3 linked regions of the Homo sapiens genome follow. The protein of the gene in region 3 purifies or fractionates together with the protein of the main gene of each other region. This does not show direct contact. Each region holds a gene or a part of one and is shown on either strand. Other genes may lie near its edges.

The links.
Region 1: the proteins of GRWD1 (region 3) and DDX18 purify together in Homo sapiens (affinity purification with mass spectrometry; 2 studies listed by BioGRID, with this or other methods). This does not show direct contact.
Region 2: the proteins of GRWD1 (region 3) and NOC2L purify together in Homo sapiens (affinity purification with mass spectrometry; 2 studies listed by BioGRID, with this or other methods). This does not show direct contact.

What each region holds. Positions count from the first base shown.
Region 1 is NC_000002.12:117,817,591-117,825,044, forward strand, and holds part of DDX18 (ATP-dependent RNA helicase DDX18), read left to right. Parts: coding exon 1-138; intron 139-2,058; coding exon 2,059-2,202; intron 2,203-3,570; coding exon 3,571-3,706; intron 3,707-4,059; coding exon 4,060-4,160; intron 4,161-4,271; coding exon 4,272-4,471; intron 4,472-4,556; coding exon 4,557-4,671; intron 4,672-6,978; coding exon 6,979-7,118; intron 7,119-7,349; coding exon 7,350-7,454. UniProt on the Homo sapiens protein: ATP-dependent RNA helicase that plays a role in the regulation of R-loop homeostasis in both endogenous R-loop-prone regions and at sites of DNA damage.
Region 2 is NC_000001.11:948,903-956,356, reverse strand, and holds part of NOC2L (nucleolar complex protein 2 homolog), read left to right. Parts: intron 1-141; coding exon 142-262; intron 263-343; coding exon 344-434; intron 435-2,274; coding exon 2,275-2,353; intron 2,354-2,464; coding exon 2,465-2,575; intron 2,576-3,068; coding exon 3,069-3,182; intron 3,183-3,756; coding exon 3,757-3,945; intron 3,946-4,217; coding exon 4,218-4,357; intron 4,358-5,118; coding exon 5,119-5,230; intron 5,231-7,454.
Region 3 is NC_000019.10:48,442,148-48,449,436, forward strand, and holds the start of GRWD1 (glutamate-rich WD repeat-containing protein 1), read left to right. Parts: upstream 1-3,835; 5' UTR 3,836-3,858; coding exon 3,859-4,045; intron 4,046-4,237; coding exon 4,238-4,355; intron 4,356-4,533; coding exon 4,534-4,696; intron 4,697-7,289. Other genes in the region: GRIN2D (glutamate receptor ionotropic, NMDA 2D precursor), read left to right, coding at 3-235, 453-1,790. UniProt on the Homo sapiens protein: Histone binding-protein that regulates chromatin dynamics and minichromosome maintenance (MCM) loading at replication origins, possibly by promoting chromatin openness.

The DNA.
Region 1 (7,454 bases), on a different chromosome or scaffold from region 3:
TGGGAAATATAAAAGTTACAAAGTCTCCCCAGAAATCCACTGTATTAACCAATGGAGAAGCAGCAATGCAGTCTTCCAATTCAGAATCAAAAAAGAAAAAGAAGAAAAAGAGAAAAATGGTGAATGATGCTGAGCCTGGTAGGTATTTATTATCTTTGAACTTCAGCCATTTAGTTTTTCACAGACGGTTATTGTTCCTCTTTCTATTACTATTGTGTGCACATGACATGAGAATTCCCTGTACTCACCAGTATGTTAGAGATTAGCCTGGTAGCTAATGGAAACATTTTATTGGCAGAAGCGGGGAGTCCATTTCAACTTTTCTCAAAATATTGAGGAATATATTTTTAATTTCACTAACCTTGAAGAAAACCTCTCTCAGAAAAGACTCTCCTTAGAATTCTAGAAATTTTCTCTTCTTTTTAAGTTACCTTTTTTCCTGCTTGATTCTTCCCATTTTCCTTCCATAAATTCCTCCCTTTGAAAGGAATATTAGTTACAAAGTATATAAAGTAGGAAACTTCTGAATAAATGGAACATTAATTTCCAAGTGCTAAGAATGGCAGGAGGAAAAGGAAGGAATGTTTTTTGAAGATGATGGAATTTCAGTAAGCTCGGATGAAAGAATGGACATTATAATTGAGATTTGTATAAGCAGAGATATCAAGGTAGGATAAGATAGGGGTCAGCAAACTATCCCTCCTTCTACCTGTTTTTGTAAATAAAGTTTTACTGGGTCATAGCAATGCCTATTTGGTTGTGTTTATGGCAACAGAGATCATATGACCTGCAAAGCCTAAACTATTTACTATCTGGCCCTTTGCGGAAAGTTTGCCAGCCCCTGAGTTGGAACATCCTATTCATGTATTTTACCTGAAATAAGGGTTTTATTTAGAAAGGGACTTTGAACTTTTCCAAACATGCATTACTGTCTTCATGATGCCTACACACAGAAGTCATTGTAATCCTGTTCTAAAATTATTGCCTTCACAATTCTTGTTTTGAGTATGCCCCAGGAAGTGGTATTATTTCTGCTCCCAAGCATTGAATCACAATGCTGGGCGTTTTAACCTTATGGGTTTTTTGTTTGTTTGTTTGTTTGTTTGTTTTATTATGAGATGGGGTCTCACTGTGTTGTCCAAGCTGGTCTTGAACTCCTGGGCTCAAGTGATCCTCCCACCTCGGCTTCCCAAAGTGCTGGGATTACAGGCAGAAGCCACCACACCCAACCACCTTATGGGTACATTTTAGGAACTATTCCAGGGAAAACAAAATAAGCCATGGAGACCAGCTGAAGATATCTGTGGCTTTTGAACATGTAGGTCCTACAAAGTTGACTCTTTCCTGGAAGGGTGGCCGTCAGGTACAGGGAGGAGACCAGTACTGAGCTACAGAGAGTCCTGGGTTGTGGTCTAAGTTCTTTTCAAACATCACTAATTGCCATATAGTTTTATATAAACACAGCATGTGGTTAATCCATTTGACCCAGAGTCGAACATTGAAAAGAGAAGTGAGAGGTAGGACTGAAAAGGTAGTTGGGGCCACATGAAAGTTGTGAATGTAGAAATGAGGGTGGGAAGAAGCCCTGCCTTTCCTCCCACCCTCATCCCTGATAGCCAAGGCACAGTCCAGTGTATGTCAGCCAGGCAAGTGGGTTGTTGCCCTTCCTTTACAGTCTATCTCTAGTAACATGAAGAGCCTTTGATAGTGATTGGCGTGGGAAGAAAAATGACTACTTATAATGAGTTTTTAAGGATTATGTTAATCAGGTATGCTTCCTTTCCCCTCAGTGGAGTATGTGAAACTTATAATTGGTATGTTTATACTGTTTAGTTGAACAAAAGCCTAAAAGGTTTTGTCACCAAGTCTGTCTGTACCCTGGGTTTTTAAATACAACCACTCATTTTTCACCAAACAGAATTCTTAACAAATTAATACAGCATATACTTAGCTTTTGAAAATATACGTCTTTATATCAGAGATCTTCTGTTTGTTGATCTCATTTGGAATTCTATTTTAAGGAAAAATTTTTTCGGATTTTGTCTTTTAAAACCAAAGATACGAAAAAAGCAAAAACTGAAAACAAAGGGAAATCTGAAGAAGAAAGTGCCGAGACTACTAAAGAAACAGAAAATAATGTGGAGAAGCCAGATAATGATGAAGATGAGAGTGAGGTGCCCAGTCTGCCCCTGGGACTGACAGGTAACGTCCAGGAAGTTTTCTAGAGGTAACTTCTTTAAAATGTGCCTCTCTTAGAGGATTATAGGTTTGAAGGTTCAGTTGTGACTTTCAGTTTACCTGAAAAAAGTAACTATCAACAAGAAACTTTTTTTATATCTTTCTGCTGCTTTTTCTCTTTATCTTCTATTTTGTGGTGTTTTAGTTCTTTTTGTTCCCTGTTTTTTTCCTTTTGTTCATTCCTGACACCAAATATTTTATATGCACACTAGCAGCTTCTAGGATTCCTTGGTTTGTCCTTTTCTGAGTCTCATTCTATGTTGTAATAGGAAAATGATTGGCCCTGTACGAGGTTAACCTCCTTTGGCCTTTGTTCCTTTATAAAGTTGAGTTTAGGCTAGAATTCACTGCTCCTAACCAGATATGTCTAGGAGTTACTTGAGTTGTTTATTTGGTTTGGGTTGGTTGGTTTGTTAAAATGTTGAGGCCCAACCCTAGACCTGCTTAATCCAAATTGCAAACGTTTTGGTAGTAGCTCTCGAGCAGGGAAATTCGCCCCCCGAGTAAGAAGAGTAACTCTTCCTGGTTTGCCCAGAACTTTAACAGTTTTAGCACTGAAAGTTCTGAATCCCAAGAATCTCCTCTGTCCCTAGCCTACTGAGAAGATTGGTCATCCTAAGCCTAGGAGACATTTTTGGTTCTCAGAGCTAGGAGCAGTCTGCTGGGATCTGGTGAGTAGAGGTCAGAAACACTGCATAATATCTTATAAGGCACAGGATAGTGTTTCACAGCAAAGAATTATTCAGCCCAGATGTCAGCAATGCCAAGGTCAAGAGTGATTGGTTTACACCCTGGGCATGTGGAGTATGGGGAACCCCCAGGTGATTTTGATGCCTTCTGCTGAACCACCACTGTATTACTTGATACGTAGGCTCAGCCTAACATTCTGTGGCTGTATCTGACTCTTCTGTGTCTTGTTGGAGTGAGATTAACAGGTTTTTTTTTTATTATTGACTTCACACTCAGTTTTTATTAATGCTCAATGTTTTCACTTTTATATCAGATTTCTTAAACATTTCATTTATCTCTGGACTCTCATTATTTTCCTTGTTTTGGTATTTTTATTTTATATAAATTCCTTGGTTATACCTCCTCTCTACCCCTTGTTTTGTTATAGTATGGTCTCTGGACTATAACTCACACAGCCGTTAACAGTGGAGAAACTTGAAAGATATAGGGTCTTTTTCTTGATATTATCACATATGAATAATTAAGGTTTAGCCTTTTCTTACTGCGGGAAGCTTTTCTAAGCAAAATAGATTTAGGCAACTGTAGCAATACTTTTTTAAAAAAAAAGATAAATTTGCTAATGATAAATTGTCTTCTGTTTAGGAGCTTTTGAGGATACTTCGTTTGCTTCTCTATGTAATCTTGTCAATGAAAACACTCTGAAGGCAATAAAAGAAATGGGTTTTACAAACATGACTGAAATTCAGCATAAAAGTATCAGACCACTTCTGGAAGGCAGGTATGATTAACATTGAAGCTTAGATATTGGCATCTATTTTTAGAACTAGTAGATGATAAAGAACATACCAGTATATTCTGTTGATTTTGTACTATATGTTGGGTCATGTATCCAGCATACATTAAAGGCTTTAAGTTAATTACTGATGTTTGAAGGAAAGTGTTCGAAAGGTGTTCTGCTTCTGTTGTAGCACAGTTCTGACTTATGATTTCAGTATATAACCCAGGTGATCAATTTCAGCACTGTAGACGTTTCTTGTTCATGTTCTAGCCGTAGTGCCTAAGGTGTGTGTATGTAGTACGTCGTAAATGAGTAGGCTAAATGTCTTTCTCCTTTCCCTTTTTAATATTTAGGGATCTTCTAGCAGCTGCAAAAACAGGCAGTGGTAAAACCCTGGCTTTTCTCATCCCTGCAGTTGAACTCATTGTTAAGTTAAGGTTCATGCCCAGGAATGGTAAGCGTTCATCTGCTTGTTTCTGCCATTATTTCACTAGAGGTTTATTGTAGCTGTTACGGACTCAGTGGTGACAGCCACATTTAGACTTCTACCATATATCATTTTTAGGAACAGGAGTCCTTATTCTCTCACCTACTAGAGAACTAGCCATGCAAACCTTTGGTGTTCTTAAGGAGCTGATGACTCACCACGTGCATACCTATGGCTTGATAATGGGTGGCAGTAACAGATCTGCTGAAGCACAGAAACTTGGTAATGGGATCAACATCATTGTGGCCACACCAGGCCGTCTGCTGGACCATATGCAGGTAAGAGATGTAGTGCTTGTCTCATTGTCTTGTATGAAACATAAACTGACAACTAATGGTTGTTCTTTGTCCTTTGTTTTGTTAGAATACCCCAGGATTTATGTATAAAAACCTGCAGTGTCTGGTTATTGATGAAGCTGATCGTATCTTGGATGTGGGGTTTGAAGAGGAATTAAAGCAAATTATTAAACTTTTGCCAAGTAAGTAGGTAGCATCTGCATTTGGTTTGCAAAGTATCTGTTGGAGGTAGATAAGAGTTGTTCCTATAGAAAAACTGTACTAATGCCAGAACTTTACCATAGCCAAGTGAGGTAGTTGTGCCAATTAACCCGAAAGGTAATTTGGAATACAAGCATCAAATGTATTATAACTTGATATAATAGTTTTGCTGTTTTAGAAGTTATAAGGCACGTTAAGCAGTCTTCACATAGGTCCTGTCCTCCACCTCTTGCCCATTCTTACCTCATCTAACATCCCCCAAGAAGCCGCAGATTTTTTGCCTTACTTGTACATACCTTGGTTATAGTACTTGCAACATTATGAACTGGTTATAACTAAGACCATGGTTTCCTTCATTATATAATTTATTTTTAAAAGCTTTGTCAAAGTATAATTATATCTACCCATTTATAATGTACAATTTGATGTTCTTTGATTTGTTTACCACTGTGACATCATCGCTGCAATCAAGAAAATGAACATGTCCATCACAGTCAAAGGTTTCCTCCTGCCCCTTTTCAATTTCTCCCTCCCACCCCTCCTTACACGTATACCTTGTCCCCAGGTGAGTATTGATCTGTTTTCTGCTGCTAGATTAGGTTGCATTTTCTGGAAATAAAGTTGCTGTGAACAGTCATCTACAACTCTTTGTAGAGGCATATATCTCCTTTTCTCTTAAGTAAACCTAGGAGTGTCCTAGTTGGTATATGTTTAGTGTATGTTTAACTTTTTAAAAAACTGCCAGATGTTTTCCAAAGCGGCTGTACCATTTAACATTCCTATGAGCAGTGTATGAAAGTTCCAGTTCCTCCTATTAAGTCTTGACCATCAGGTAATGTTAGCCCCAAGTTTGTTCTCTTTTAAAGTTGTGGTATTCTTGTCCTTTGCTTTTCTATATAAATTTTAGAATTGGTTTGTCAGTTTCTCCCCCTTCCCTCCAAAAAAGTCTCAGATCTTGACTGAGATTTTATTGAATAGAGATTATTGGAGGAAGACAGTATTGAGTCATGTAACCCATAATAAGGTATATCTCCATGTATTCGATATTTTCTCTATCATATTTAGGGGGGTTCGGGATACAGGTTTATTCACATCTTTTGTCAGATTTATCTCTGAGTGTTTCATTAAAATTTCAAGTTCCAATTGCTCGTTGCTTTAATATATACATATATACACACACACATATACACACATATATATGCACACACAGTTGAATTTTATATTGATCTTGTATCTAGCAAGACAGTTAATCCTGTACCGAATGATTATTCAGTATGACTTTCCAGATGACTGTAGCCTTTTGGATTTTCTATATAGGCAATCATGTGCAGATAAAGACAGTTTCACCTCTTTATTTAATTTTTTTTTCCTGCCTGATTGCCCTGGCCAGAACCTCCAGTATGGTGCTGAATAGAAGTGGTGAGAGCAGACATCCTTATCTTGGTTCTGATCTTAGGGGAAAGCATTCAGTCTTTTACCATTAACTACATATGAAGTTAGCTGCAGGTTTTATATAGATGCCTTTTATCAGATTGAGGAAGATCCCTTCTGTTCCTAGTTTGCTGAGGATTTTTAATCAGAAATAGATGGTCAAATGTTTTTTTTCTGTCTGCTGAAATAATCATGTTTTTTCTTTAGTTAACATAGTGAATTGTATTGGTTGATTTTTCAAATGTTGAACCAACCTGCATTTCTAGAATAAACCTGATCCATTTCTAGAATAAACATGAGCCATTATCCTTTTTATATATTGCTGAATTCACTTTACTAAAATTCTATTTCAAATTTTGTATATGTGCTCACGAATTGTATTGGTCCATAGTTTTCTTGTCATGTCATGTCAGGTTTTTGTATAGTGTAATGACTGACTTCGAAGAATGAGTTGACATGTAAGCCCTCTTTTTAATTTATTGGAGAGTTTGTGAATAATTGATGTTTTTTTCTTAAATGTTCAGTAGAATTCACCAATGGAATCCATTTGGGCCTGGAATTTTCTTTACATGAAGGTTATAACTAAAATTTCTTTAGTAGATATAAGGCTATTTAAAGTTTTCCTATTTTCTTCAGTTGTTTGTCTTCAAAGGAGTTTGTCCATTTCATCTAAGTCCTCAAATTTATAGACCTAGTGTTTCATGATATACCCTTTTTACCTTTTGTAATATTTGTAGATTCTGTAGAAACATCATATCTCCCATTTCTGATATCTCTACCTAGAATATTTGTAGTTGTGAGGCAATTGTAAAGATTCCCTAAAAGATTGGGGTTATTTTTATATGTATCTGTTTCAGCACGTAGACAGACTATGCTCTTTTCTGCCACCCAAACTCGAAAAGTTGAAGACCTGGCAAGGATTTCTCTGAAAAAGGAGCCATTGTATGTTGGCGTTGATGATGATAAAGCGAATGCAACAGTGGATGGTCTTGAACAGGTACTTTTTATCAATAACTGAAAACTGTAGGGATCTTACTTGGTGTTTTTATGTAATTGTTGGAAGGATCATTCAGAAAGCAAATGGGTTAATGAACTTTTAAAATGCTGTAGGTGAGGCATGACAGTTTACACACTGTGTTTATCAGTGCTCTTGATGAAATTACACAAGTTAGGAAATGGAAAATGTCCACTTGGTTCATTTGTATCTGTCTGCTTAAACGCTTTCTAGGGATATGTTGTTTGTCCTTCTGAAAAGAGATTCCTTCTGCTCTTTACATTCCTTAAGAAGAACCGAAAGAAGAAGCTTATGGTCTTCTTTTCATCTTGTATGTCT
Region 2 (7,454 bases), on a different chromosome or scaffold from region 3:
TATGGGGCTCTGTGCCTCCCCCCAACCTCTGCCCTATGTCTGAGGGTGAGGGTGAGGGTGCCTTTCTCTGGGGCTGCCGTTTCCACTCTGCCAAGTGCAGTCTCAGCTCCCCTGACGCCCCTGGTACTCTTGCTCCTTCAGCAACGCCTCACTCCAAAGCTGTTCCATGAAGTGGTACAGGCGTTCCGAGCAGCTGTGGCCACCACCCGAGGGGACCAGGAAAGTGCTGAGGCCAACAAATTCCAGGTCACGGACAGTGCTGGTGAGCTTGGGGGGAGCCTGGCATCCAGGCTGTCTGTTGCGTTCTCTGTCCCGTGAGTACATCCAGGCCTTTTCGTTGCAGCATTCAATGCTCTGGTTACCTTCTGCATCAGAGACCTCATTGGCTGTCTCCAGAAGCTGCTGTTTGGAAAGGTGGCAAAGGATAGCAGCAGGTAAGAGGGGAGGGGGTGAAGGGGGGTAGGGTGGAAGGTGGGTCGGGACCACACACAGGAGAAGCCAGAGGCCTTGTGGCTAGGACAGAGACATGGCAACAGAGCCAGCGTCTTCTTGGGGACCCTGAGAAGGCAGCGGGGCACGAGGGACCGTTGGGAGAGGCTGGGCACTTGGGGCCAGTTGGAGCGGCCCCACCTTCTTTCCTTCCTGAAAAGGGAAGTTGTCTGCTCAGAGTCTCAGAAGGTGTGGCGTGTGCAGCTGCCTTTGCTCTCAGATTTTCCCAGGTTAGGGTTCTTGCTCTATTTCCCTTTGTAAGAACTTGTAAGTCCTGTCCATACTCCTTGATCTCTGCACTATGACTGGCCTGTTTCCTGGAGCTGTGTGTGTCTGTAGACAGGGGCCTCATCAATGCTGAGAACCTGAGGGCCTCAACTTCCCCTTTAGAGAAAGATTGGGCAGAGAAGGCCGTGGAAGGTTTTCAGAGAAGAGAGACGCACGGCCAAGCATTTGGTAGAGCATGGAGCACGTTGGGGTTCCGGGGCTGTGCAGCCATGTGACCTTGAGGCAGTGGAGGCCTAGAGTTGGAACTGCCCCAGGACACCTTCAAAGGAAGAAAGGAGACCCACAGGAGAGGTCTCGCCGACAGCGGCTCAGGAGACAGGGGCACTGTTGCTGGTGGTAGTGGTCGGGGCTGGACGGATAGAACAGAGCCATGTCCACATGGAGGCAGTGCTGTCCGAAGGGGACAAGGAAGCTGGCAGATGGGGGTGGAGGGACAGGCAGCGATTGGGAGGCAGCACGCACTGCAGCCTGAGCCACCAGGTCAGGGACCCCTGTCGAGGCAGCAGCTGTACCGGAGGGAGTCAGGCCGTGGGGAGCAGAGCTGCCTCCTGGGTCTGGGTGGGCAGCTGCAGGTGCCCAGCAGCCAGTGTCAGCACAGGTGTGAGGAGGGTCGAGGACGGGGGGCCTTTCTGGGGCCCTGCCCTTTGTCCTTCCCATGCTTCAGCAGATTTTAGTGAGCGCCTACTGCGTGGGCTCTGGTAAATGTTTTGTTTTGTTTTGTTTTGTTTGTTTGGTTTTTGGTTTTTTTTTTTCCTTACGAGATAGGATCTTGCTCTGTCGCCCAGGCTGGAATGCAGTGATCATAGCTCACTGCGACACGTACCTTCTGGATTCAAGTGATTCTCTCACCTTAGCCTCCCAAGTAACTGGGACTCCGCCACCAGGCCTGGATAATATTTTGTATATTTTTGTAGAGACGGGGTCTCACTGTGTTGTTCAGGCTGGTCTCAAACTCCTGGGCTTGGAGTTTGATCCTCCTGCCTTGGCCTCCCAAAGTGCAGTGAGTACTGGCATGAGTCTCCACACCTGCCCTCTGATTTTCTTTTCTTTGTGCAGCAAATGTGGGCCAAAGGAAACCAGTCTGCGGCAGTTGGTGGTGCCTGGGCGACCCCAGAGGTGCTGAGTACCAGCTGCTGGGCTTAGGGACCTCGTGTGGTCTCACGGTGGGGATGTGATCAAGGGGACCTAGAAAAGGTTTATGTCTGAGAGGGAGTTGGAGGCTGGGACTTCCGGGGACTCTTAGGGCGGTGGCCAACCCTGGGCAGGGCAGACAGGAGTTCAAGGCCACTGAAGGAGGAGCTAATGCACTTGAGAGGGTCCTCCTAAGCCCCTGTGTCTGTCCAGCTGTAAGGGGCCCTGAGCTTTTTTGAGTGGAGAGACGGGGGGTCTCTGCAGAGTCGTAGAGGCTATGCTGGCCAGGGCACGCGCCAACATGCTGAGCAGCCTCGCGTCCGAGCCGTGGGGCCTCCCAGCCAGGGGTGGGTGGTCTCTCTGCAGGATGCTGCAGCCGTCCAGCAGCCCGCTCTGGGGGAAGCTTCGTGTGGACATCAAGGCTTACCTGGGCTCGGCCATACAGGTGCTATTCTGGTGGGGAGGGCACGGGGGCCTGGCTGTATCTGGTGGTCGGTCCTTTTTTGTATCCCAGAATACATGGGTTTGGGGCTTCACTGTCCCCTCCTGCCCCCAGCTGGTGTCCTGTCTGTCGGAGACGACGGTGTTGGCGGCCGTGCTGCGGCACATCAGCGTGCTGGTGCCCTGCTTCCTGACCTTCCCCAAGCAGTGCCGCATGCTGCTCAAGGTTCGTGGCCCAGTCCCCTCCCTGTGTCTGTCATGGGGTCGGGGGGCCACACGGCTACCCCCACCACATCCCACTCCTGGCCAGGGCACAGGTGGTGCCCACACTCCACTGGCTCCGCTTGGCTAGAGAGGCCACAGAAGCACCTGGCCCCCACCCCCACCTGGGGTTTCTGTCTCAGGCAGTCCCTGCCTGCCCGGGCAGCGCGGCTCAGTCCGTGAGCAAAGCCACGGTGAGGTATCTTCTTCCCGGTGTGATCTCACATACGTCGGCGTGTCTGACGTGGTAAACTTTTGTGGTCCTCTTCTCACAAGGAGCAACACACCTGTTCTGTTCACTTCTGTAACTGAGCACCTAACTCACGGCTCCCCCGAGGTGCTTTGGGAAGAGCTGGTGGCCATGGGAGCCTTTGCCTGGCTGGGGAGGGCTGTGCTGGCCCTGGGGCATCCCTGCTGAGGAGGCTGGGGGGCCACCAGTGACGTCTGACCTTCTGCAGAGAATGGTGATCGTATGGAGCACTGGGGAAGAGTCTCTGCGGGTGCTGGCTTTCCTGGTCCTCAGCAGAGTCTGCCGGCACAAGAAGGACACTTTCCTTGGCCCCGTCCTCAAGGTAGTGGTGGGCCCTGCGTCTGTGTCCCTCAGCATCTGCATTGGAAATCTCGGCCTAAGGGCAGGGCGGGCTGCCTTTGTGGTTGGTGCCCCTCACTGGACCCTCACTGCAGCTCTGAGCAGACCTGGGCCCTTGGATCACGAATGTCTCACAGAGCACCTGGGGGTGGTGGGCAGGGAAGAGAGCCCTCGGCCTTCTCAGGGCCCCACCTGGACCCTGCTTCACACAGCTTCCCCAGGGGAGGGCCTCTCTGGCTGGAGGAGGACACTGGGTGTTGGGACCTGAGGCCATGGCCAGGGTACAGTCCTACTGCCCGTCCCCAAGCCATGGGTGGCCTGCATGTGGGGACCCTCAGCCCCCAGAGGGGCCCAGTGTGCAGCAGGAGCTTCTGCCCCAGCTTCTCCCAGGCCTGAGGCTGGTGGGCACTTGGGGGTGGGGGCTGTGCAAGGGGCTACGGCTCTTCCTCGAGGCCCAGCTCTGAGGGAAAGGCCCAGGTGTTCACAGGGGCCCTGGAGTGGGCGGTGGAGGTGCATGGCCCTGATCCCAGGTGGCTCTGACCCGGGTCTCTCCGCAGCAAATGTACATCACGTATGTGAGGAACTGCAAGTTCACCTCGCCTGGTGCCCTCCCCTTCATCAGTTTCATGCAGTGGACCTTGACGGAGCTGCTGGCCCTGGAGCCGGGTGTGGCCTACCAGCACGCCTTCCTCTACATCCGCCAGCTCGCCATACACCTGCGCAACGCCATGACCACTCGCAAGAAGGTGTGTGGTGGGGCCCTTCCAGGCTCATGCTGGGCATGGGGTGGGGCAGCCCAGGTGCCCGACCCAAGGCAGGGCCTGGGGCCTCCCCGAAGCCCCTGTCTGGAGACAGCCCAGCACCCTGGTGCAGTCGGTCCTTGCAGGTGGGGGAAGGGTGGATGGGTTGAGACCCCGTGTGCAAGATGAGGAAATGATTCCTGTGCCGGCCCAGGAGGAACGTGCATCAGCCTGACTTGTCAGCCTGGCCAGTAGCTGACGTGGTTCTCTCTGACCAGGAAACATACCAGTCTGTGTACAACTGGCAGTATGTGCACTGCCTCTTCCTGTGGTGCCGGGTCCTGAGCACTGCGGGCCCCAGCGAAGCCCTCCAGCCCTTGGTCTACCCCCTTGCCCAAGTCATCATTGGCTGTATCAAGTGAGTTGTGGGGTGGGCAGGGTTGTGCGGGAGGGTCAGGAGAAGCAAATTTGCTGGGACTGTGTGGGCGGTGCCTCTGGCGTTCAGGGCCTTGGGGCCTGAGTCTGTGTCCTGGCCGTCCCTGAGGAAGGGCTGGGGTCCCTGTACCTGCTACGGGGAGATGCTCTGGATTCTGGAGAGCTAGGGCTGGTGGGCACCTGTGACATGAGCTCCTCCAACAGCGGTTTAGCCGCCTCGGGTGCCACCCAGCGTGTGTTCTGGGGGCTTGTGTGCAGTTTGCAGTGAGTTTGGTTCATTACGTGGGGTTCTTGGGTGGAGCACATCTGATGCAGTGAACTGCATTTTGGGTGTGAGCGCTTAGGAGGGTCCAGGCACGGTAGGGGCTGCAGCAGGAAAAGGTGGGAGCAGTACTGTGGCCTCTTTGGCCAGGAGGGGGCATCTGTCTGGCTGAGCCTTAGAAACTCAAGGCTGGGAAGGGAGGTGGGAAGTCCAAGGGAAGAAGTAGGAAAGGCGGGAACAGGGAGGAGAGCAGGCAGGAACAGATGACCCCTGCCACCGTGTTGAAATAAAGCTGAAAGCTGGGTAAGGTACCTGCAGCCCCATAGCTGGGCAAGGGGTGCAGGTCCCTGGGGTTCAGACGTGCCTTGTCCTGCTTTAGGGGTCTGATGTCGGTGAGTGGGGGAGGAGGTCCAAGACAGCAGGGGGAGGGGCAGGGGCTGCCAGAGCCGGGGCCTCTGCTCACTCGGCCTTCCCACCCCCAGGCTCATCCCCACTGCCCGCTTCTACCCGCTGCGAATGCACTGCATCCGTGCCCTGACGCTGCTCTCGGGGAGCTCGGGGGCCTTCATCCCGGTGCTGCCTTTCATCCTGGAGGTGAGTGAGGCTGTGGTGGGCGTGTGGCACCTCTGCCTGCTCCTGTAGGGAGCATCTGCTGCTCCGGGCGTCTGTGCTGAGTTGTCCGGCGACTTCCCGGAGCCCTGGCCGCCTCCTTGTCACGGGTGTCACGAGGACAGTGCTCCTCCGTGTGCTGGGGGCAGTGTTGGGGAACGTGGGACCACTGGGGATGAAGGCGGCTGCTGCTAGGGCTGTGCTTGAGGATGCCGGGACCTGACCCTGTAGGTGCTTGCCCAAGACTGGAGTAGGCAGGAGGCGAGATGGGCCAAAACCCAAGTCTGATTGCTGAACTGTACACTGAACAGTGCCCTGCCCTGACAGTTGTGTGCATGTGTATGCATTTGTATGGGGGATGTGTGTACATCTGGGTGGGTGCGTTTGTCTGTGCATGCATGCGTGTGTGTGCACCATCTGGGTGCATGGGTCTGTAAATCTGTGTGTGTGTGCATATCAGTTCATGTGTGCATCTGTATGTGTGTATGCACGTGTATCCATGAATGCCTGTGTGCCTGCAGGTGTGTGCATCTGTGCGTGTGTACACCTGTGTGTATGCATGTGTGTACCTTTGCGTGTACCTTTGCGTGTGTGCACCTGTGCATGTGTCTTTGTATACCAGTGTGTACCTGTGTGTACCTGTATGCATGCACATGCGTGTGTACCTGTGTGCACCTGTCTGCATGTGTGTACCTGTGCGTGTGTGCACCTGTGTGCATGCATTTGCGTCTGCATGTGTCTACCTGTGCATGCATGAACCTTTGCATGTGTGCATCTGTGTGCATGCATGTGTGTCTGCGTGCATCTATGTACCTGTGTGCACCTATGTGCATACACACGTGTCTGTGTGCACTTGTGTGCATGCATTTGCATCTGCATGTGTGTACTGTGCGTGTGTACCTGTGCGTGTACCTGTACACTTGGGTGCATGCATGCACGTCTGCTTGTGTGTGCCTGTGCGTGTGTGCACCTGTGTGCATGTACGTGCGTCTACGTGTGTGCCTGTGCATGTGTGCGCCTGTGTGTACCTGTGTGTATGCATCTTTGCACGTGCACATGCCACTCAGGTAGGGAAAGATTGGAGTCCGAAGTTTCAACTTTCAGTGGGTGGGTTAGGCCCCACCCCGCTGTAAATTTAGGAATTCACGATCTCCACCCTGTTTATCTAATGAGTTCTCAGCCTCATGAAGGCCCAGAGTCGTGTCACAGCTGTCCTTGGGGCTGGGTCCCCAGGTTGCTGGGTCCAGAAGGTATGGAAGCCCCAGGCACGTTCTGATTCCCCTTCCACTGAGGCAGGGATGCTGAACATCTTTAGGAAGCCATGTTCACTCCCATGGCAGCCAGCAGTGGTCTCTGATTGCCCAGCCCTTGGCCTGGCCCCTGTGTCTGTGGGCCTCCAGCTCTGCTGCCCAGCTCCAGGCATGCTTTGTGTCTGTTTCCCTTGTCCAATCTCCTTGGCTACGTGCTTTCTTACTCTCTTGCAGTGTCTGTTTCTTCACTTGTGCACTGCCCTGGTTCACTGCAGCCGCACCCTGTAGGCCCCTCTCACGCAGGGATGCAGGCCTCTCCTCTCCGGAAAAAGCAAACCCTAAAAGCTAAAACAAAGCCCTCAGCTGTAGGCCGTGCCTGCCCTTCCCCGGTGCCTGGACAGGAAGCCAGTCGCCTGCCCATACTTTTGGCCCAGGCTAGAGAAGGGCAGTGTCCTCCCAGAGGTTCATCAGTACCAGGGCGTTTTCCCATCTGGACCTGAGCTCAGCTGTCTGGCAGCCACCCCTGCTGAGTGGGGTGTCTTGCTGGGGCCTCCACCCTTGGGCCCCCCATAATCTGCTTCTGTCCTCTGGTGCCCCAGCATGTACCCTGGATCTCTCTGGTTCACAGCCTGAGGGCTCCTAGTGGTTGGGGAGGGGTCACAAGACTGAGAGGCCAGGCTGACTCTTTCTCTGCTCCTCCTGGCATGTCCTACGGAGGTGCATGGCCTGTGGCTTCTGTGGAGGGTGTGGGAGGGGCCCCCCAGGCCTCCCGTGACCTCCATCTGTCCCGTCCTGTGTCTGGCACTCTTTGCTGTTGCTGCTGCGTCTTCTGGTTGCTCGGGACGGAGCCCCATGTGGCATTGCTGTGCTGAGGGCCAGGATGGGCCTCAGTGCCATGTTGTCAGGAATGGGGGCTGTCCTGGTACTCTGTGTGGCAGGGACCTCTAGGTCTCCAGACG
Region 3 (7,289 bases):
AGATGAGATCGAGATGCTGGAGCGGCTGTGGCTCTCTGGGATCTGCCACAATGACAAAATCGAGGTGATGAGCAGCAAGCTGGACATCGACAACATGGCGGGCGTCTTCTACATGCTCCTGGTGGCCATGGGCCTGTCCCTGCTGGTCTTCGCCTGGGAGCACCTGGTGTACTGGCGCCTGCGGCACTGCCTGGGGCCCACCCACCGCATGGACTTCCTGCTGGCCTTCTCCAGGGTATGGGGCAGAGAGGGAGGCAGAGAGGGGGAGATGGCAGGGGCGGGGACAAAGGTAAAGCCGAGCAGAGACAAGGAGATGTGGGTCGAGATGTGGATAGTGGGGAAGAGAGCGGGAAACACAGGCGGGTAAATGGAGAGGAGAGAGGGACTGAGGGGAGGCGGGCAGGCGTCCTGGGCATCTCGCGCTGACCCCCGTCCTGTCCCCGGACCCGCAGGGCATGTACAGCTGCTGCAGCGCTGAGGCCGCCCCACCGCCCGCCAAGCCCCCGCCGCCGCCACAGCCCCTGCCCAGCCCCGCGTACCCCGCGCCGCGGCCGGCTCCCGGGCCCGCACCTTTCGTGCCCCGCGAGCGCGCCTCAGTGGACCGCTGGCGCCGGACCAAGGGCGCGGGGCCGCCGGGGGGCGCGGGCCTGGCCGACGGCTTCCACCGCTACTACGGCCCCATCGAGCCGCAGGGCCTAGGCCTCGGCCTGGGCGAAGCGCGCGCGGCACCGCGGGGCGCAGCCGGGCGCCCGCTGTCCCCGCCGGCCGCTCAGCCCCCGCAGAAGCCGCCGCCCTCCTATTTCGCCATCGTACGCGACAAGGAGCCAGCCGAGCCCCCCGCCGGCGCCTTCCCCGGCTTCCCGTCGCCGCCCGCGCCCCCCGCCGCCGCGGCCACCGCCGTCGGGCCGCCACTCTGCCGCTTGGCCTTCGAGGACGAGAGCCCGCCGGCGCCCGCGCGGTGGCCGCGCTCGGACCCCGAGAGCCAACCCCTGCTGGGGCCAGGCGCGGGCGGCGCGGGGGGCACGGGGGGCGCAGGCGGAGGAGCCCCGGCCGCTCCGCCCCCGTGCCGCGCCGCGCCGCCCCCGTGCCCTTACCTCGATCTCGAGCCGTCGCCGTCGGACTCGGAGGACTCGGAGAGCCTGGGCGGCGCGTCGCTGGGCGGCCTGGAGCCCTGGTGGTTCGCCGACTTCCCTTACCCGTATGCCGAGCGCCTCGGGCCGCCGCCCGGCCGCTACTGGTCGGTCGACAAGCTCGGGGGCTGGCGCGCCGGGAGCTGGGACTACCTGCCCCCGCGCAGCGGTCCGGCCGCCTGGCACTGTCGGCACTGCGCCAGCCTGGAGCTGCTGCCGCCGCCGCGCCATCTCAGCTGCTCGCACGATGGCCTGGACGGCGGCTGGTGGGCGCCACCGCCTCCACCCTGGGCCGCCGGGCCCCTGCCCCGACGCCGGGCCCGCTGCGGGTGCCCGCGGTCGCACCCGCACCGCCCGCGGGCCTCGCACCGCACGCCCGCCGCCGCCGCGCCCCACCACCACAGGCACCGGCGCGCCGCTGGGGGCTGGGACCTCCCGCCGCCCGCGCCCACCTCGCGCTCGCTCGAGGACCTCAGCTCGTGCCCTCGCGCCGCCCCTGCGCGCAGGCTTACCGGGCCCTCCCGCCACGCTCGCAGGTGTCCGCACGCCGCGCACTGGGGGCCGCCGCTGCCCACAGCTTCCCACCGGAGACACCGGGGCGGGGACCTGGGCACCCGCAGGGGCTCGGCGCACTTCTCTAGCCTCGAGTCCGAGGTATGACGCGGCCCCGGGGGCCCCACCGCCCCCTTGGTCAGCGCAGGCCACGGCCCGAGGGGGCGCCCGCAGTGGACAGGACCCGCGTGGGTTGGGAAGGAAAGCAGTGGAACTGGCCGGACCCCGCCTGGAGCAGCGTCCTGCGCCCCCTGGTTCTGGAGGAACCGCAAGCCGGAGAGGATTTGGTCCCTCAACTATCACCCAGCCTGAGAACGAGGGGGCGGGGGCCTTGGAGCCCACCGGACTTTTTTTTAAACCCGACAAGGGCTTTTTAACGTCACCAGATGGGGCGGGAGGTGGGGGGTTCACGCCACTCCCGCGTCCCACCTCCACGCCCGGGGCCGTGGCCCCCACATCACTGTGCAGCTCCCCGGCCCCAGCCGCGCCTCCGGGGAAGCCCGTTTTTAACCTTTCATCCATTGGGACTCAAAACTGTGAGACGCGTTCGCCAAACTGTGACCCCAGACCTTGGCCCCGCCACACAGAAACCCCTGACCCAGACTGTGACATCCGACTCCTAAAATGGTCATCCGACTCCAGACTGTGACCCCTGACCCCAAACTGTGACCCGAACCCCAGACTGTGCCCCGACCAGACTGTGACCCTTGACATCAAACCGTGACACCCCCTCCTCCTCTTCCACCCTCGGTCGCTTTTCCCTACTCTGACCTAGGACACGTCCCCAACGGAAGCCCCGCCTTCCCTTGCACCGCGATGAACCCAACCTCCCTGAAGCCAAAACTTCCCACCCTGCCGCACCTCCGGACCACCCCACTTGCCACCAAGCACATCCTCTCCAAATCCAACCCTTATTTGCGACCCTTCAGTGATGACCCAGCAGACCTCCAAAAAGCCTCCTCTGCCCAGATCTCCAGCCGGGTCTGGGGCTGGGTTGCGGAGGGGAGGGTCTGGGAGTCCACACTTCTCCACCAACTTCCCTTCCCACTCTCTTATTCCACATTGCAGTGTTTGGAATAAACCATGTTTTTATGCCTCCTCAGTCCAAGCCTAAGCTCCGTATCTGTTAGCCCCCCTCAAATTCTCTGGAGGAAACAGAAACACAAAAGTCCCACAGGGGAAGAGGAGACAGAATTAGAGAGAGAACAGAGACTCTGAAAGGAGGTGCCTGGGGAGACAAAGACCAAGAAAGAGGAGGTGGGAAGAGACCCTGAAAAGAAAGTCGAGAGGGTACTGGGGCAGATAAGAGACCCCAAGAGAGTGGTGAGATAGATCCCGGAGACAAAACATATTAAGATCAAAGGTATGGTTTTATTTCCTATGGCTATAGGTACCAAGGCTTGCTACATTCTCAATATCCTGTTCATGCAAGCTAGGAGAGTGTCTGACATATCCCAGCCAATCCGCATTATCTTGAATGCTGTTAATCTCACCAATGAGAATCTATTTCTAACATTTCATTATGTCAATTAGCCAAACCGCTGGTGCTGATGGGCGATAAAGAGAGACGAAGCACTTGTAATAGCTGCCTCCAGAGGGTGGACTTTCTGATTAAGTGCTCGCTGACCAGAGCTGAAATGTGAATGTCTGGTTAGGCAATTGACTGCCCCTAGAGGGTAGATTGAACCGCCTAACTTACAGATAATATCCATCCTGTCTACAAGAAAGCATTTTTGAAACAAATGAAAGCCATCACAACAGAGAGAGGAAAAGAAACCGGCCTTATGGGTCCTCGGGGAGTAGAAACTCAGTCTCCTTGCCAGTGAAAGAGCAAATTTGCATATATGAATAATTAATTAACTGGAAAGAACGCTCTCGGAATCAAACTGGACAATGGGGAAAACAAGCCTCCCGTAGAACTACAACTCCCAGAAGGCCTTGCCACTACCGCGAGGAACAGCGCCCAAAGTCACGCGAAGATGCAGTTTCTCCGTATCCGCAGGCTTCTTTCGCTGGCGCCATTACCTGAGTTCTCCTCCAGCGTTTCCGCACCCTCTCCGATTAGCGGTCCCAGGAGTTTCCAAGGTAACCGCGCAGTAGGGCGGATCTCATTAGGCGGAAAGCGAAACCCGGAAGTGACGCTCTTACCGGGTGTCAGCAGCGAGAGGGTTCGAAGATGGCGGCGCGCAAGGGTCGGCGGCGCACGTGTGAAACCGGGGAACCCATGGAAGCCGAGTCCGGCGACACAAGTTCCGAGGGCCCGGCCCAGGTCTACCTGCCCGGCCGGGGGCCGCCGCTACGCGAAGGGGAGGAGCTGGTCATGGACGAGGAGGCCTATGTGCTCTACCACCGAGCGCAGACTGGTAGGGCTGAGTCCGGACTCCAGGGTCCTGAGGTGGCTGATCCCGAGCCTTTAACCTGAGAGGTGCTCGGGAAGAGAAGGCTGGGGTCTAAGAGAAGTGATTTCATACCGGAGGCGGTTGATCCATGAGGGAGGTGGGGACTGAGCTCTTACTGTCCCGTCTTAACTCGTAAACCCCGCCTTCCATCCCCAGGCGCCCCCTGTCTCAGCTTTGACATAGTCCGGGATCACCTGGGAGACAACCGGACAGAGCTTCCTCTTACACTTTACTTGTGTGCTGGGACCCAGGCTGAGAGCGCCCAGAGCAACAGGTAAGACCCGAGGCTTTTCCAGGACCAGGAGGCTCAGTTTCCAGCCCCTTCCTCAGCACCCAGGAGTTAGGGCTTCCAGTTTCTGCCTCTCGCAGATCCAGGAGTCTGGGTTTCCAGCCTCTCTCCTTCCTAAGAATCCTGGAATCTAGTGCCTAACTCACCCCACAATTTCTCCCAGACTGATGATGCTTCGGATGCACAATCTGCATGGGACAAAGCCCCCACCCTCAGAGGGCAGTGATGAAGAAGAAGAGGAGGAAGATGAAGAGGATGAAGAAGAGCGGAAACCTCAGCTGGAGCTGGCCATGGTGCCCCACTATGGTGGCATCAACCGAGTTCGGGTAAGTATGGTCCCAGGAGCCTGCTCTGCATACTCTGAAACACATCTGACCCATCCCCTGTGTCCATAACTCCCAACACCTCCTCATGTTCTTTTTTTTTTTTTTTTTTTTGAGACGTAGTCTCGCTCTGTCACCCAGGCTGGAGTGCAGTGGCGCAGCCTCGGCTCACTGCAACCTCTGCCTCCCAAAGTGCTGGGATTACAAGCGTGAGCCACCGTGCCTGGCCCATTTTTTTTTTTTTTTTTTTTGAGATGGAGTCTCGCTCTGTTGTCCAGGCTGGAGTGCAGTGGTGCGATCTTGGCTCACTGCAACCTCCCCTTCCCAGGTTCAAGGGATTCTCCTGCCTCAGCCTCCCAAGTAGCTGGGGCTATAGGCGCCTGCCACCAGGCCCTTCTAATTTTTTGTTTTTTGGTTTTTTTTTGAGATGAAGTCTTGCTCTGTCGCTTAGACTGGAGGGCAATGGCATGATCTCAGCTCACTGCAACCTCTGCCTCCCAGGTTCAAGCGATTCTCCTGCCTCAGCCAAGTAGCTGAGATTACAGGTGCGCGCCACCACGCCCGGCTAATTTTTGTATTCTTAGTAGGGACGGGGTTTCACAATGTTGATCAGGCTGGTGGTGAACTCCTGACCTCGTGATCCGCCTGCCTCGGCTTCCCAAAGTGCTGAGATTACAGGCGTGAGCCACCGCATCTGGCCAATTTTTTGTATTTTTAGTAGAGACAAGGTTTCGCCTTGTTGGCTAGGCTGGTCTCAAACTCCTGACCTCGAGTGATTGATCCGCACGCCTCGGGCACCCAAAGTCATGGGATTACAAGCGTGAGCCACCACACCCGGCCTCCTTCAGTTTTTAGAAAAGTACTTGTCACATAGTTTTATACAATTTAGCTATTATGATCAGTGTCATTACATGTTAGGTACTGTTTTAGATTATGAGGATATGGTTTATGTTCTTCACTTTTCTCTTTGGTAACATAGTGAGTTATAGAACTTATCTGATGGGGCTGGCATGAGGTCAAATGAAATAACATATAGTGCCTAGAATAGCACCTGGTTGTAATATGAGGTATGTATTTTCTGTTACTATTCAGGAACTGTTTTTGGTTGTGGCTGTTTGTTTTGTTTTTGAGTCATGGTTTCACTCCCATTGCCCAGGCTGGAGTGCAGTGGCGTGATCTTGGCTCACTGCAACCTCTGCCTCCCAGGTTCAAGTGATTCTCCTGCCTCAGCCTCCCGAGTAGCTGGGATCACAAGTGCACACCACCATGCCCAGTAATTTTTGTATTTTTAGTAGAAATGGAGTCTCATTATGTTGGCCAGGCTGGTCTTGAACTCCTGAGCTCAAGTGATCTGCCCACCTTCGCCCCCAAAATGCTGGGATTATAGGCATGAGGCACTGTGTCCAGCCTGTTTATTTGTTTTTTGCTTCAAAGCTAAAACATCTTCTGATCAGGTAGACTTGTAAGTACAATGATACGGTATATGAAGAGCACTTAGAGCAGTACTTGGCTGATAGCTGGGGCTGTCTGTTTCCATGAAATTATTTTTACTATGTTTCAGTACTGTTCTAGATGCAGAGGATTTAGCAGCAAGCAAAAGGTCTCTGGCTCCATCAACTTACACACTAGTGGGGGAAGGGAACGAGATGAAACTAAGTAAATGTGTACCATGTCCAAAGGTGTTAACTATCCTGGAAAAAATCCAATGAAGTAGGGGAAGAGGGTTAGGGTGCTCCAGGAGTGGGGTGCTATTTTTAAACAGTGTGGTTAGGAAAGTATTCTGTCATAAAATGCCATTTGCATAGATACTCACAGGTAGTGGGGCAGTGAACCCTGTAAAAGAATTTGCAGGCAAGGAAAAACACAAGTTCAAAGGCCCTGGGGTGAGCTTGGCATGTTTGAAGAGTTTCAAGTGAAGCGGGAGTGTCCAGTCTGTCTGGAGCAGAATGAACAAAAGGGAGAATGACACAATTTGGGGAGCGGGCACAGAGAAGACATTGTTCAGAGCCTTGTCGGCCACTGTAAGGACTCCAGCTTTTAATTGGGAGACGTTGGAGGGTTTCAGGCAGAGGAAAGACAGGGTCTGACTTCTGTTTTAAAGTGGTCCCTCTGGCTGCTGTCCTTAAATATCAATTGCAGAGAGGTAAGGGTCGGAGGAAAGAATCCTGTGGGGAGACTTACGGTATTCAGGGGAAGGATGACATCAGTAGTAGTGTGACAGCAATAGACATCATGAGAAGGGGGTTGGAAGTGAGCTTTTTTTTTTAGATGAGACAGAGTCTCGCTTTTGTCGCCCAGGCCGGAGCGCAATGGTGCGATCTCGGCTCACTGCAACCTCTGACTCCTGGGTTCAAGCGATTCTCCTGCCTCAGCCTCCTAAGTAGCTGGGATTACAGCCACCCACCAGCACGCCCGACTAATTTTTGCATTTTTAGTAGAGGCGGGGTTTCATCATGTTGGCCAGGGTGGTCTCGCTCCTGACCTCAGGCAGTCTGCCCTCCTCGGCCTCCCAAAGTGCTGGGATTACAGGTGCGAGCCACCGCGCCTGGCCCTGGAAGTGAGCATTTTTACTGTAGTCAGCATAGGTGCTGGGCAT